2 separate regions of the Homo sapiens genome follow, and region 2 is linked to region 1. The links come from fine-mapping of genetic effects on gene expression. Tissue or cell type: whole blood. Region 1 holds a variant in brackets; the other region holds the start of a gene. All regions are shown on one strand. Distances are between the middles of the regions.

Region 1 (2,500 bases):
ATCGCTTGAGGTCAAGAGTTCGAGACCAGCCTAGTCAACATGGTGAATCCCCATCTCTACTAAAAATACCAAAATTAGCCGGGTGTGGTGGCGGGTGCCTGTAATCCCAGCTACTCAGGAGGCTGAGGCAGGAGAATTGCTTGAACTCAGGAGGCGGAGGTTGCAGTGAGTCAAGATCATGCCATTGCACTGCAGCCTGGGCGACACAGTGAGTGAGACTCTGTCTCAGGAAAATAAAAAAGGCCGGGTGCAGTGGCTCACGTGTGTAATCCCAGCACGTTGGGAGGCCGAGGTGGGAGGAATTGCTTGAGTCCAGGAGTTGGAGACCAGCCTGGGCAACATAGCAAGACCCCATCTCTTAAAAAAAAAAAAAGACAAAGTAAACAACAATCCATGAAAACAGGGCCAAAGGATGCTAAGTAAACAAGCAACCCTTGGAACCCACAGTCCAGCCACACATCCTTGATCCTGAGCACGTGGGAGCTCATTTCCCCACCTGCCCTGGAGGCCGGGACATCCCATTTGGAGGGTGGGGAACAATACTTCTAGCAGAGTCGAGGGGCATCCCTAGGGCGACTGTCCATGGCTAGCCCCAACCTGGGGTGCTTAGGCTCAGGGCAGTGTCCTGTGGTCCTGACTGTGCCCTGGGTGCCTACCCATTCCCCGGCCAGGTGGGTGCTGTGTTGCAGCCGGGACTCAGAGGCCCACGTCCTGAGGGTTGGTGCAGTGCTGTTACTCAGCAGACAGGCAGGGCTGGCACAAGACCCTCCTGTCCTCTCTGCCAGAGGAGTGTGGGCCCTCACTCCTGGGCCCGTCCTGGGCCCGGGCCAGGCGCTCACCCCACCTAGCGTTGTCTCACCGGCACATGGGGGACCCCAGTCTGATGGGAAACGGACAGGTCAGTAGGACCCCAGGGTGGGCAGGCAAGGGGGATGAAGGGCCTCACGGTTCCCCCCGGCCCCCTAGATGCCTCTCGGAGCCTCCCTGACTTCACAGAGCTCGACCTCCAGGGCAAGGTGCTGCCTGAGGGCGTCGGGCCCGGGGACATCAAAGCCTTCCAGGTCCTGTACCGGGAACACTGTGAGGTAGGGTGGCCAGGTGGGCAGGCAAGTGGACGGGGACGCAGCCACGGGCATGGGAGGGCCATGCTGCCCCCCAGCCTCCCTGAGCATCCGCCTCT[G/A]CCACAGGCCATTGTCGACGTCATGGTGAACCTGCAGTTCACCCTGGTGGAGACGCTGTGGAAGACCTTCTGGAGGTACAACCTCAGCCAGCCCAGTGAGGCGCCACCGCTGGCTGTGTGAGTACTGCCCGGCGACTGTGGGAGGGAGAGGGGGGAGGAGGGCATGACCCGCAGGTGATTTTGATGGCCAGGGTTGGGGCACCTGCTTGTCCCCTGCAGTTTGTGGGGTACACATATCCTTGGCTGTGTGGAGTGTGTATAGCCACCCGACACTCAACAGTCGGGGGTGGAGTGCCTGACTAAGCCCAGGCATGGGGCAGGGCACCATCTTCTCCCTGGAGTGGCAGGTTCTGGAATCTGTTTGACCCCTGTATGGAGGGTAGGGCATAGGATCCCGTCCCACCCCTCGGGCCTGTGCCAACCAGACCCTGGGGATCTTTGGGAGGCAGGGGGTACTTACCTGGGGACGGGGGTACCTGTGCCCTTCTGACGCTGGGGGCAGGGCCACAGAGTGCCCCCAGTGACCCTGGGTTGGGGACAAGGTATACCTGTGCCTTCTGGCACTGGAGGCAAGACACAGAGTGCCCCACTGACCCTGGAGTGGGGGTAAGGGGGTACCTGTGCCTTCTGATGCTGGGGGTAGAACCACAGAGTACCCCAGTGACCCTGGGTCAGGGACAGGGGCTACCTGTTCCCTTCTGACGATGGGGGCAGGACCATAGAGTACCCCAGTGACCCGGGGTGGGGTGGGTGCCCGCAGACATGACGAGGCCGAGAAGCGACTGCCCAAAGCCATCCTGGTGCTCCTCTCCAAGTTCGAGCCCGTGCTCCAATGGACCAAGCACTGTGACAACGTGCTGTACCAGGGCCTGGTGGAAATCCTCATTCCCGACGTGCTGCGGCCCATCCCCAGTGAGTGCTCGGCCTGCTCGGCATCCCCTGCCCCACATACACCCGCCCTGCCCTGACCGACCCCCGCCACCGCCCACAGGTGCCTTGACCCAAGCGATCCGGAACTTTGCCAAGAGCCTGGAGAGCTGGCTCACCCACGCCATGGTCAACATCCCCGAGGAGATGCTGCGGGTGAAGGTGAGAGTGTGAGGGGGTCCCTTTCTCCTATCTCTGGGGCTTAGGCCTCCGTCTCCTCTGCTCCCCAGGGGCGGTAAAATTTGTCCCCACGCCTGTTCCAGGGATGATGCCTGTGGAGGAAGGGGAGACCTTCTCCGCCTCGGGGAGCACCCTGGGCATTGTCTTTATAAACCAGTGTCCTCAGGCACCCACTTCTGAAATGCAACCCCCTTTGTGGTGTTACTGTACTCA
Region 2 (2,742 bases), 62 kb before region 1:
CATGGTGAAACTGTCTCTACTAAAAATAAAAAGATTAGCGAGGTATGGTGGCACACATCTGTAATCCCAGCTACTTGGGAGGCTGGAGGCACGAGAATCGCTTGAACCCAGGTGATGGAGGTTACAGTGAGCCAAGATTGCACCACTGCACTCCAGCCTGGGCAACAGAATGAGATTCTGTCTCAAAAAAAAAAAAAATAGTAGCACATGAACACACAACTATTACATTGTAGAGCTACTATCTGAATCCAAGTGGTGTGTCTTCTATGTCCACGCTCATACCTATCCTCCTTCTCACCATCATGAATATCTATTTGCCAGGTCCCTGCCCCTCATGAAGCTAGGTCTTCTGTTCCCTCTGACTCTCCTGATGGATCCCAGATTGTGCCGCTGCCCTGCTGAGACTCTGCCCTAATCTGTTTTGATTTAATCATACCACTTAATCCTGCAAGATTCAGGAACTGTGTCTCCCATTTGAAGATAAAGACACTCAGAGACTCTAATCTCAGCACTTAGGGAGGCCGAGGTGGGAGGATCACTTGAGCCCAGGAGTTCGAGACCAGCCTAGGCAACATAGTGAGACCCCTGTTTCTACAAAAAAAAAATTTAAAACTAGCCAGGCATGGTGTCAGGTGCCTGTGGTCTCAACTACTCTGGAGGCGGAGGCAGGAGAATCACTTGAGCCTGGGAGGTCGAGGCTGCAATGAGCAGTGATTGGGCCACTGCATTCAAGCCTGGGCAATGGAGTGAGACCACATCTCCAAAAAAAAGACACTCAGAGACGGAAGAAAAACCAACTTGCTGGGGAGAGGTCATGCATTAGGTGACAAACCCAGCTATGTGTATACCACACCCTTCACATTACCTGCTGGAAAGGGTTGGAAAACACTTCGGTGTTGTCTTTGCAAATGGCACGCTCCCCGCCCCCACCTGTCCTCAGACTTCCAGCCCCCATGGATGGCTTGCAACACCCCATCCCAGCTCTGCAGCTCTGCTAACTCCTGAGCCCTTGTTTCAAGGCTGGGCAGGTGTCCCTGGCTGAATGTGGCAGGACAGGGACCCTCCTCCTCCAGCAACCTCCTCTTATCTCTGTCCTTAGCTCCTGGGACCCATCCAGCCACCTGTTCCCCTTCTACATCCACTCTCTCCCCAGCCTCACCCATAGCCTCGTGGGCCAGGATGTCTGATCGTCTCCACCGGGAGCCCCCGCAGGTGAAGATGACTGCTCGGATGAATTCTCGGCCGCAAAGCCTGACCCCGTAAGGCGCTGCCCGGGCCTCAGCTCCCGGCCACAGCTCCCCGGTCAGCACCCATACCGCCAGGAGCAGCAGCAGCATGTACCTGGCCATGCTGGACGGAGATGCTTTGAACGTGAGAGTGGGCCAGTGTCTCTGCTGCCTCTTGGCCCCCCATTTATACATCGTGGCTCCCCCACACTCTGCCTGAAGAAAGCTGAGTGCCTCCCTTATCTTCTCCAGCAGAGGGGAGACAGGCACGGCCCCCCCAACCCGACCTTTCTCATGTCCCCAGCGAAGTGATAACCTTTCGCTAGGGACAGGGTGATGTGGCCCAGCTTATTGTCAACATCATTGACAGAGAGGCGAGAAGGTCTCCAACCTGCAGAGACCAGAAACGCATAATCCCAAAAGGCGGGGTAAGGTGACACAACCAGATCCCCACAACGTTAGGGTCCTGGACCTCTTCGAAGATCATAATAGCAGTGAACGCCCAGTGCAGTATGTGCTACGAGGCCAGGCACACTACTGTAAGCATTTTATTGTTTATTTGTTTGTTTGTTTGTTTAGATGGAGTCTCGCTCTGTCACCCAGGCTAGAGGTACAGTCCCAATGGCACAATCTTGGCTCACTGCAACCTCCGCCTCCCAGATTCAAGAAATTCTCCCGCCTCAGCCTCCCAAGTAGTTGGGATTACAGGCGCCCACCACCACACCTGGCTAATTTTTGTATTTTCAGTAGAGACGGGGTTTTACCACGTTGGCCAGGCTGGTCTCGAACTCCTGGCCTCAGGTGATCCGCCTGTCTCAGCCTCCCAAAGTGCTGGGATTACAGATATGAGCCACAGCCCTCAGCTGCTCAAAGCATTTTATATCTCTGTAATGTATTTGATTCTCCCAACAACCCAGGGTAATGGTTCTCAAATGTGAGTGAGCTTCAGAATCTTTGGGTAGGCTTGTTAAAACAGAAATCAGGCCAGGCGCGGTGGCTCACGCCTGTAATCCCAGCACTTTGGGAGGCCATGGCAGGAGGATTACCTGAGGTCCGGAGTTCGAGACCAGCCTGGCCAACATGGTGAAACCCCGCCTCTACTAAAAATACAAAAAATTAGCCGGGTGTGGTGGCTCATGTCTGTAGCCCCAGCTCCTTGGGAGGCTGAGGCAGGAGAATTGCTTGAACCTGGGAGGTGGAGGTTGCAGTGAGCTGAGATGGCGCCACTGCACTTCAGCCTGGGCAACAGAGTGAGACTCTGTCTCAAAAACAAACAAACAAAACACATATCTTTGTGTCCTACCTGCAGAGCTCCTGACTCAACAGGTATGGAACATATCTAAGAATCTGCATTTCCAACCAGTTCCCAGGTGACATTGATCCTGCTGGTTCAGAAACCAGACTTTTTTTTTTTTCTTTTTTTCAGAGACAGGGTCTGGCTATGTTGCCCAGGCTGGATTGTAGTGGTGGCAACATAGCTCACTGCAGCCTTGAATTCCCGGGTTCAAATGATCCT

What was found. PIP is the estimated chance that this variant, and not a neighbour inherited with it, causes the effect.
Region 2: it holds the start of RLN3, and the variant in region 1 is fine-mapped to the expression of RLN3 in whole blood (TOPMed, PIP above 0.99).

What each region holds. Positions count from the first base shown.
Region 1 is chr19:13,965,218-13,967,717 of GRCh38, reverse strand. RFX1 (regulatory factor X1) reads left to right here. Exons shown (of 21, transcript NM_002918.5): 13 at 967-1,085; 14 at 1,188-1,297; 15 at 1,941-2,092; 16 at 2,172-2,269. Among named protein-coding and RNA genes, the nearest start is that of DCAF15, 14 kb to the right of the region's middle. The variant G/A (reference allele first, on the strand shown) is at 1,181.
Region 2 is chr19:14,026,812-14,029,553 of GRCh38, reverse strand. RLN3 (relaxin 3) reads right to left here and starts at 1,406. Exons shown (of 2, transcript NM_080864.4): 1 at 1,160-1,406. The coding sequence starts at 1,349. RefSeq lists an enhancer at 580-629.